Linked DNA regions of Homo sapiens. The protein of the gene in region 1 purifies or fractionates together with the protein of each later gene. This does not show direct contact. Each region holds a gene or a part of one and is shown on either strand. Other genes may lie near its edges.

The links.
Region 2: the proteins of NME8 (region 1) and IFT57 purify together in Homo sapiens (affinity purification with mass spectrometry, with the first as the bait; one large-scale study listed by BioGRID). This does not show direct contact.
Region 3: the proteins of NME8 (region 1) and TRAF3IP1 purify together in Homo sapiens (affinity purification with mass spectrometry, with the first as the bait; one large-scale study listed by BioGRID). This does not show direct contact.

Annotation. Positions count from the first base shown.
Region 1 is NC_000007.14:37,851,522-37,855,176, reverse strand, and holds part of NME8 (thioredoxin domain-containing protein 3), read right to left. Parts: intron 1-3,655. UniProt on the Homo sapiens protein: Probably required during the final stages of sperm tail maturation in the testis and/or epididymis, where extensive disulfide bonding of fibrous sheath (FS) proteins occurs.
Region 2 is NC_000003.12:108,163,362-108,167,016, reverse strand, and holds part of IFT57 (intraflagellar transport protein 57 homolog), read left to right. Parts: intron 1-31; coding exon 32-163; intron 164-1,523; coding exon 1,524-1,586; intron 1,587-3,287; coding exon 3,288-3,354; intron 3,355-3,655. UniProt on the Homo sapiens protein: Required for the formation of cilia. Plays an indirect role in sonic hedgehog signaling, cilia being required for all activity of the hedgehog pathway.
Region 3 is NC_000002.12:238,396,905-238,400,559, forward strand, and holds part of TRAF3IP1 (TRAF3-interacting protein 1), read left to right. Parts: intron 1-554; coding exon 555-775; intron 776-1,849; coding exon 1,850-2,015; 3' UTR 2,016-3,655.

The DNA.
Region 1 (3,655 bases):
AGAATCCCATGAGGTCGACATCAAAGGTCTCAAAATGATCTACTTGTCTCCAAACACAACATCTATAATTCAGCCTCTAGATCAGGGGCTCATAAGGACCTGGAAGGCTCATTACACGTGGTACTCTATGGAAAAAATGTCAGTGCTATGGAAGAGAACCCTGATAGAACATCATTAAAGTCTGGGAGAATTGCACCATTGAAGATGCCATCATTGTTATAGAAAAAGCTGCAAAAGCTATCAAGCACAAATTAATAAATTCCTGCTGGAGAAAATTGTGTCCAGATGTTGTGCATGACTTCATGGGATTTATGACAGAGCCAATTAAGGAAGTCATAAAAGAGATTGTGTATGTGGCAAAAAGGTGGGGGGTGAAAGGTTTCAAGATATGGATGTTGGAGAAATCCAAGAGCTGAGAGACACCACACCAGAGGAATTAACAGAAGACAAATTGGTAGAGATGAGTGCCTCTAAAGCAGTGCCAGACGATGAGGGAGAAGATGTAGAAGAGCCAGTGCCAGAAAACAAACTGACATTAGAACATCTGGCAGAAGAATTCCAGTTATTCAAGACTGCTTTTGACTTCATTTATGACATGGACCCTTCTATGATATGGGCACTGAAACCAAAGCAAATGGTGGAAGAAGGATTGGTACCACATAGAAACATTTTTAGAGCAATGAAAAAGCAAAAACGTCAGACAGAAATTACCACGTATTTCCATAAAATTACATCCACTATGCCTGCTTCTCCTGCCTCCCCTTCCACTTCCTCCACCTCTTCTGCTTCTGCCACCCCTGAGACGTCAATACCAACTCCTCTTCCTTCGTCTCCTCCTCAACCTACTCAATGTTAAGATGATGAGGATGAAGAATTTTATGGTAATCCACTTCCACTTAATGCATAGTAAATATATTTTGTTTTCCTTATAATTTTCTTAATACTATTTTCTTTCCTCTAGCTTACTTTATTGCAAGAATATAGTATATAATACACATAACATACAGAATATGTATCAATCGACTGTTTATGTTACCCATAAGGTTTCCAGTCAACAGTAGGTTATTAGTAGTTAAGCTTTTGGTGGAGTCAAAAGTCATATATGAATTTTTTACTACGTGGGGGGTTAGCACCCCTAACTCCAGCATTGGTAAGGGTCAACTCTATTTAGAAGTAATTCAGGTATTATAATTATAATGTTTATATTATAATACATAAATTATTAAGGATTAAATAATTTAATAATAATATAACAGTAACTATAATAAACACTATTAACTAAATTTTTATATGCCTCTCTCTATATATATAAAATATTTAATGTTCCTCTTTTAAAAAGGCACACAGCAGAAAAAAATTGTATACTGACCATTCAGCTCAGGGCAATTTTAATAGGAAATAACCTCATACATTTTAATTTTGGACCTACATGTTCAAGTTCTTCCTTGATTAACAGCAGAAAACAATATGTCCGGCAGAGGGCATCCCTCCATTGCTGCTCACAATGGAGGTTTGGAGATATAATTTTCTTTCACCTTTATGGGCAGGTCACCAGAATCTGGAACCCCTAGTCTATGTGAACGTCTACTGCCACTTTCCTAATGCCAACTGCCAGGATTCACAAGAATTTCCTGATCCTCAATTCCCTGTGATCCATCTGTCAGCTGTTAGACACTTGTGATACTGTATTTTAACTTCTATCAACCCCTTTCCAACTGCATGTGGCAATCTCCTTTAGGCTCTATTCTCTGGTCTTCTAACTTGATTTTTCTTCTCTGTGAAGAATCAAGTCTAGAATAATTTCCTAGCTCCTTTCTGGTGGTTGTGATTCTCCAGAGTGAAACAGGTTGTTACAGAATCTCGTCTTTAAAAAAACTACAATGACAAGAGAATGAAAAAACCAGCCACAGACTGGGATAAACTATTTGCAAAAGTAATACCTGATAAAAGACTGTTATTCAAAATACACAGAATACTTGAAACTCAACAATAAGAGAACAAACAACCCAATTAAAAAAATAAGCCAAAATCCTTAGCAGACACCTCCTCAAAGAAGATATACAGATGGCAAATAAGTATATATAAAGATGCTCCACCTCACATAATCTTGGGAAACGCAAACTAAAACTACAAAGTGATTCCACTACACACTTATTAGGATGACCAAAATCCAGAGAACAGATGCTGGTGAGAATGTGGACCAACAGAAACTCTCATTCATTGTTGGTAAGAATGCAAAATGGTACAGCTGCTTAGGAAGATTTGGTGGTTTCTTACAAAATAAAACATATCATTACCACATGATCCAGCAATCTTACTCCTTGGTATTTACCCAAATGAGTTGAAAGTGTAGTATGTTCATACAAAAACCTAAGCATGGATGCTTATAGCAGCCTTTTCCTAACTGCTAAAAGTTGGAAGCAACCAAGATGTTCTTCAGCAGGTGAATGGATAAATAAACCCTGGTATATCCAGATAATGAAGTATTATTTGACACTAAAAAGAAATGAGCTATCAAATCATTAAAAGACATGGCGCATATCACTAAGTAAAAGAAGCCAATCTGAAAAGGCTCCACACTATGTGATTCTAACTATATGACATTCTGGAAAAGGGAAAACTATGGAGGTAGTCAAAAGATTGGTGGTTGCCAGAGGTTATGAGGTAGGGAGAGATGAACAGATTACAGAGGATTTTGCTGGGAATGAAACTATACTATATGATGCCATAATATAGTAAGTACATGTCATTACACATTTGTTAAACTCCCTAAAATGTACAACACCGAGAATGAACTTTAATGTAAACTACGGCTTTTGGTAAATAATGATGTGCCAGTGTAGGCTAATCCGTTGTAACAATGTACCACTCTGATGTGGGATTTTGATGGTGGAAAAGGCTATGAGAGTGTGGGGATAGGGGATATATGAGAACTCTTTACTTCCTGGTAAATTTTGCTATGAGCCTAAAACTGCTCTAAAAATAACATCTATATAAAGACATTTTTTAAAAAATTAAAGGAATGAAAACCTTACAAAGTCCTTATTTCAGAAGACAAAAAAAAAAAGTCAATTCCTTCACCAGGACAACAGGATTTAACTACTGTAGACAGCCACTTACTCTCTTGAATAGAAAAATAATAAGAGGTGAGTGTCTAGGCTTTAAACTGCTTATTCATCATCTTGAACTAAGGAAAATAAGTCCTATGGAAAATGCATTTAAAGAAGGGGATGGATAGTGAAATACAAGGTCAGTAGGCAAACCCATTCCAATGTTTGGGTTGAAAGGGGCCATGAAAGACCTGTAACTGGGAGAACATGAGTGGGTTGTGGTTGCATGTCTGCATTAGGAACTATGTATTTCAGAGATAAGGAGTAAAGATCTGTTATCATCTGTTATCTGCTCCTGTATCTTAAGTCTAGTTGGTTTGGGAGCTTTTCTATATAATATAAATATATTATATAAGCCACACATATAAATTCTCCAGTAGGGACATTTAAAAACAAAAAAAGGTGAAAATAATGTGATAATAAATTTTACTTAACCCGATACATCCAAAATATTATCATTTCAACATGTAATCAATGTATAAAATTATTGATGGCATATTTCACTTTCTTTTTCCATATTAAATTTTTAAAATCTAATGTGTCTC
Region 2 (3,655 bases), on another chromosome or scaffold:
CTTCTATCTGCAAATTCCATGGAATTTCTAGGGATTTTTGGACAAACTCCATAATGAAATTACTAGGACTTTGGAAAAGATCAGCAGCCGAGAAAAGTACATCAACAATCAGCTTGAGAATTTGGTTCAAGAATATCGTGCAGCTCAAGCCCAGCTGAGTGAGGTAATTTAAGAATGATTTCCAAGGATTTATTCAAGTTAACAACCCTAAACCCTAAACTTGACACAATACTGTTCATTTGAGAATCATGAAATGCTTTTCATGAACAGCAAAACATCAATTTTCTGCCCACTTTAGGAAGCCAAGAGAGCCGAGTGAACTTATTTCCATTTCACATGTAATAGAAGTTGTTTTCTCCTGGAAGTCTTTAAATGCACGTCTTCATTTGATTTAAGTAAATGAAGGCATATGCTGTTGGGGGAACATAGCTTAGAACAGGAACAGAGTATCAGGACACCTGGTTTTGCTTCTATAAGTCTGTTGTTAATTTACCATTGGCGTAGGAGGAAGAAGAATAGTATGCATTTACATGTGTCAAAGGAAAAAGACAGTCCTTGCCATTCTGGCTTACAACCACATAATAAGGAATGTGAAAGCAAGATACATTCAGAGACAAGCAGTTTAATTAATAAAATGAGACAAATTTTTCATTCTTTCAAAGTTTTAGAATTTTAACCAAAAAATAAAATCACTAGACTTTGAAAGCACCAGTTCTTTGTCCCAGCAGTAGGGATCTAAAAGCTTTCCTTTGGGATTTGTGCCCCCTATTTTCTGATGTTAAAGAAGGCTAGTAAGGACAGTTGCAAACATCAGTTGAAGGCATATTTTTTGTCTTCAGCAGACAAAGTTGAGAAAGAGAAAAAAGTAGAAGTAAATTTGAGATACTTCTATACTTTCAGAAGTCCTCAAAGACTAAATAGAAATCTACACTTTTTGATGTTATTTGTTAAATGTATTATTCCTTCATATACACAATTACTTATGAATATTTTAACTATCAAAATGATGTAAAACTCTCTGATCAAAGCCACCATGTATTTGTCTAATATTAATATTATATAATTGATTGTTAGTTTCTGACATACTCCAGTTGAGTGTACTGTCTTACGGGATGTTAATCCTTATTCATCATTGAGCTTCATGCTCTACTTTGATTGATTTTTGGTTTTAGAACGGACTTTCTCTGCGGAGCATGCAAATTAGATTGACCAAGAGCCCCTCTCCTAAACTGTTTAGGAATGACCAAGGACAGTTTTTATTGTGAACCATGCCCATGCGAGGTACACAGTCAGTTTGTGAAGGTTAAGGTAGTTCATCATTTTGTAGTACTTAGTTAAATACATGCTGCCTATTAGGGACATAAAACAGCTACAGTTAAATGTCACTTTCACAAATGTATTCACAAACAAGGAGCAGGGTTGTCATAAAATGACCTGCAGAAATTGCAAACACAAAGAGGTCAGTCGTATTTAATCTGCTGCTGCTTTGAATTTGCCATTAAACAAAATGTTTTTCCTCTCAGGCAAAGGAGCGATACCAGCAGGGAAATGGAGGAGTGACGGAAAGAACCAGACTCCTCTCTGAGGTACACACTGATGCTCTTGCCCTGCTTCTCACCTGTCAGCTGGGCCCCAGCCATTGAGAACCTACAAATGGTTTAACACTGCTAATTTCAGTTGCTTCCTGTGCCTTTAAATCATTTTCTTTAGGAGATAATCCCTAATTTTCCTATGACTGAATCAATAATTGATACATTTCTTGTTTCCACAGGATGCCTGAAGTTTCTGTATTAAATTCAACATAAAACCTGCTCATAATATTAGCACACTTATAATTTTCCTCAACATTTTTTACATAATAATTATTATTAACATGGGGATGAATAGTAAAGCACTGACTTAAGGAATCTATAACAAATTTTAACGTTAGTCTGCAAGATATAAGGTTTATTTTTAGTGACTGTTATTGATAATTTGTGTGTGATCCTGGGTGTATTTCTCTGTCCACAATTGGGAGTGGCTTATAACCTCCTCCTTTAGAATATTTGCATAAAAATAAATAGTTGCATTTATTTTTATGATCTTGCAAGAGAGGTAGGACCTGATATATATTCCCATTTTTCACTGAAGAGCCAAAGGAGGAAAAAACCTTGAAAAAAGGTCAGTAGTTTATTTGGGACTAAAATCCAAGATGATCTTTGGTTACAATCCAGTATAATTGGAACAAACTTTACTGTTTTGACAGGAAAGAATTAAACCTCTTTTATAGAGATTATTTGAGGAATAAAGTTATTTTAAAACACTAAAAATATAACATCAGAAATATTTAGACTGTAATCCTGTGGTGCTTCTAAGCAAATAAAACAGTATGTAGAAGTAAAGTGTTCACTTATGTTAGGTAAATTAACACTTGAAGGGAGTCCAGGGAACCATTTACTTCTTTTGGAGTAGATAGTTATCCCCAGTTGTAACATTTCAGATGCCTGAAAAAATTAATTTGCTTTACTTGGATGAGCACTTTATTCCCAGGGAAAGTTTTACTCACCAGTATGATAAAAATAAAGCCTACTAAGTCACAATAATTATAGCTTAGTTGTAGATCATGTAAAAAATTTTCAATTTCTTAAAGATAGTATTTTCTACTTATATTAATGCTGGTTTGGAATTTTGCTAATAATAGAGGTTATAGTAGTATAATCGCCAGATAGAGTGCAGATAGGAACAAGTGTGACAGCAAAGTATGCCTCCTTGGAGTTCGGAGTTCATGATTTGGATAAAGCAATAAGAATATTCTTATATATAGCCATATGATATAAACATTTTTTAGTGTCCTATAGAGGAAAAAGTGACATAATGTCTTATAGAACTATAATATTAAGAAAGATACCCAGAAAAGCTTTAGAAATCTAAAATCTCTTCAGGATGTTTATACTATTTTAATTAATAACCAGTTATTAGAGAATTTCAAAGTATATGCGATGAGATAATTGCGAGGTTTGAGTGTCTAGTGACTAAAACAACTTTGATTGTGTTTAGTATATTGCAACATGAGAAAACAGATGTGACAGCCATTTGGTGAAGTTTAACATTAGGAGCATTCTGAAAAACTGAAAAGCTTTGTATATCTGCATACTTTATATTATTTGAATTATGTCCAAAATATTCCTAATATCTTTATTTTTCTATATGTGTGGCTAATATCTAAATTACATTTTCTTAACACATAATTCAAAAATTGTGAAAGTTTATTAAAATGTAATGCTCATGAAAACTTGTTTTCATGAAAGGTTATGGAAGAATTAGAAAAGGTAAAACAAGAAATGGAAGAAAAGGGCAGCAGCATGACTGATGGTGGTAAGTACATGCTCATTTTAGGGGAAAAACTGAGCAAGAGAAAAATAGCTCTTCAAGAAACCTACTTAACAAAATAGTATTAATATATAAAACAAATTATTTGTTGCTTGTTTGAAGAGAGATTCATTGTACAAAAATGTCTGATAATCAGCGTACTGTTTTTCTTATAAATCAGCTGAGAAGGGTAGGCTTTTTAACTATAATTTAGAGGTTTTTAACATTCAAACTATTGATTCAAAGAGTGGGAAATATTTAAATATGTACTTTGTTATGCCAGTTTAAAAAATAATATTGTGTTCTG
Region 3 (3,655 bases), on another chromosome or scaffold:
GCGCTGGCTGCCCTGCACATTCTCCATGCCCTCCTTTCCATGGCACCAGTTTCTGCCTCTCCTTTGGGTTTCTTTCCCCTTGCCCCCTGGCAAGCTGGGTTTTGAAGTCATTTGGGATGGAAGGTGGGCCATTTGAAGAGCTGTAGGGTCAGGCCCTCATTCTGCCAGTCCATTTGGGAAAAATCTTCCATGTCACTAAGCTCTTGTAACAATAGCTACAAAAGTTGCTTGTTAGTTGGGAACTGAAATCTGCCTGTATAGAGATTTGCCCTCAGATGGATTTCCAGGTAAAGACAGACCCCCATCCCCATTGAGCAGGGAAGGAGCGGCCCCTCCCTGGCAGTGCTGTGTCCTCTGATGGCGTGCAGCACTTCAGAGTTACTCTGTTAGGCAGCATGGCTCTCCCTTTGCATGGGAGTGAGTGTCCCACAACCAGCACTGTCTCTGCCTGCGCCTTTCCTCCCAGCCCCATGGCCGTGTGCTGAGTGCACCGGCCCTGTTCTGCCTTTGGACTGAGGAGGCGTGTTCCTCTTCCTATGTCTCCCTGACTGTAGGAGCGATCTCTCTTTGAGTCGGCATGGAAGAAGGAGAAGGACATCGTTTCCAAGGAGATAGAGAAGCTCCGCACGTCCATCCAGACCCTGTGCAAGAGCGCACTTCCCCTGGGGAAGATCATGGACTACATCCAGGAAGACGTGGATGCCATGCAGAATGAGCTGCAGATGTGGCACAGCGAGAACAGGCAGCACGCCGAGGCCCTGCAGCAGGAGCAGAGGTGGGGGGTAGTAATGGGGAGGGGGCCCTGCAGCAGGAGCAGAGGTGGGGGGTAGTAATGGGGAGGGGGCCCTGCAGCAGGAGCAGAGGTGGGGGGTAGTAATGGGGAGGGGGCCCTGCAGCAGGAGCAGAGGTGAGGGGTAGTAATGGGGAGGGGGCCCTGCAGCAGGAGCAGAGGTGAGGGGTAGTAATGGGGAGGGGGCCCTGCAGCAGGAGCAGAGGTGGGGTGTAGTAATGGGGAGGGGGCCCTGCAGCAGGAGCTGAGGTGGGGTGTAGTAATGGGGAGGGGGCCCTGCAGCAGGAGCAGAGGTGAGGGGAAGTAATGGGGAGGGGGCCCTGCAGCAGGAGCAGAGGTGAGGGGAAGTAATGGGGAGGGGGGCCTGCAGCAGGAGCAGAGGTGAGGGGAAGTAATGGGGAGGGGGCCCTGCAGCAGGAGCAGAGGTGAGGGGAAGATAATGGGGAGGGGCCCTGCAGCAGGAGAGAGGTGGGGGGGAGCAGGGGGATAATGGGAGGAGGCCTGCAGCAGGAGCAGAGGTTAAGGGTAGCAGAGGCAGGGAGTAATGGGGAGGGGGCCCTGCAGCAGGAGCACAGGTAGGGGATAGCGGAGTGGGGGGAGTAATGGGGGAGGAGGCCCTGCAGCAGGAACAGGTTGGGGTGGGGCAGGAGGGTAATGGGGAGGGGGCCCTGCAGCAGGAGCAGAGGTAGGGGTGTAGCGGAGTGGGGCAGTAATGGGGAAGAGGCCCTGCGGCAGGAACATAGGTGGGGGGTAGTGGAGGGGGGATCCCCAAAGTCAATGGGGACTTTGCTGCATACCTCCTTGTCCCAGAGGTTGTTCTGTATGTAATTTAAGGACTTCAAGATTATCATTGAAGAAATATTAACTGCTGCTTTTATAAATCTCATGTTTGACTTCACTTTTGGTTGTAGCAGGGGTTGTGAAAATAAGAAATAAATATTATCCTTTTCTTTGGATGAAACGAATAATTTACTTCTGTTGTCTTTCAATGTCTTAATTAAGAAGCCAACACACAATGAGATGAGAGAGTGATGAGCCGCTGGTTTTGTTCTCCCTCAGGATCACAGACTGTGCCGTGGAGCCCTTAAAGGCTGAGCTCGCGGAGCTGGAGCAGCTGATCAAAGACCAGCAAGACAAGATCTGTGCTGTGAAGGCCAACATCCTCAAGAATGAAGAAAAAATCCAGAAAATGGTATATAGTATCAATTTGACTTCGAGAAGGTGAACACTCAAAAGTTTCAGAGATGAAAAGTCACCTCAGTTTAAAAGCAAAAAGGAAGATAGAAAATCATTACTCTTTTAAGTTCCAGTTTGCTAAGAAAATGAACAGTTTACAATGTTATTATCCAGCTAATTTTCAGAGCTTTAAAACTGTAAGCATGTTAAGTGTATTAAAAAAACCATGTTTTCTTACCTCCTTCCAGATGGAATACTGGCTAGTTATAAATAGCGCTTCCAAACACCTCTGTGAAAAGTTTTTTTGAAAGCCTGTTCTTTGTGTTTCTGCTGTAACCTGTTTAGTTCTGTACCAGAACTCTCTAGCAGGTAAGTGGTGTGGGCATACCAAGGGAACAGTAGTCCTTTATTTTGGTTTAGTGGAAAGACTTTCAGAGGTCAGTGCCGAATGAAGGATGACTGTGTACTTTTTGATAGGCACTTGATAAGTAGAATGAGGCCTGAAAATGAATACATTATATTTTTAGTTAATTTCCAATGGAAAGGGCTAACCTCAGCCTGTCTCCATATCAGGTACCTATCAACTGGATTGTTTTCATTTTTGTTTTTTGACCTCTTTGTAATTGCATGTACTTCTCTATGTAATTTTCCTCTTGATCTCTACTATCGTTTGCTTGTGTTTCTAGTCCTTAAAGTTCATAAATTTAAAAAGGAGATTTCAGGATGGCCTTTATGGACGTTGTCTGGACATACATCCTCACTTTCTTCCGCAGTTTACCCTGGTTTTCCTCAGACAGAGGCTAGCGCAGCCCCCCGGAGTCCTTGTTCTCCTTAAGAGGGTCTCGCTCTGCAAAGCATTGGCGCCATGGCTTTTCCTTTGCATGGGTGTGCATACCGAGAGACAGGCAGCTTAGGAAAAACAACATAAGGAAGACTTAAAAGGATGCACTGATTTACGACGTTTTTTGATGTTAGCCATTTTTTTGGAAATTGTTTTTTAAAGCAAAAGTTTTTTAAAAACATGGTTTATAGTTTTTCACTTACATATACTATTGTAAATACTTAGCAGAGTCTTAAGTTACTGTATAAAACATTTCATTGTGTTTGAAGACATACTTATGGGTCTTGAGGTCTGGGTCCTAATACTTTTAAATAGTGTATTTATTATGTAAACTGAGGAGTGCCATTTAAAGTGTGAGGATTGCCTGAAAAGGTTTTGTTTCTTTCTTTTTTTTTTTTTTTTGAGATGGAGTCTTACTCTGTCGCCCAGGCTGGAGTGCAGTGGCGCAATCTCGGCTCACTGCAACCACCGCCTCCCGAGTTCAAGTGATTCTCCTGCCTCAGCCTCCTGAGTAACTGGGACTACAGGCGCACGCCACCATGCCCAGCTAATTTTTGTATTTTCAGTAGAGATGGGGTTTCACCGTGTTGACCAGGATGGTCTCCACCTCCTGACCTCGTGATCCGCCTGCCTCGGCCTCCCAAAGTGCTGGGATTACAGGCATGAGCCACTGCACCCGGCCAGGTTTTGTTTCTTTAAGGATTAGCACAAATGGCACCGTTGGGTTTTTCTTCATACAATTTCCAAAATAAATTCTGTACTCAGGTTGTTATATGATTTTCTGAGCTGAATAAGTTCAGGAGCAGATTATTAAGATCTGCCATTCTGAAACGCTGGTCTTTTTCTCC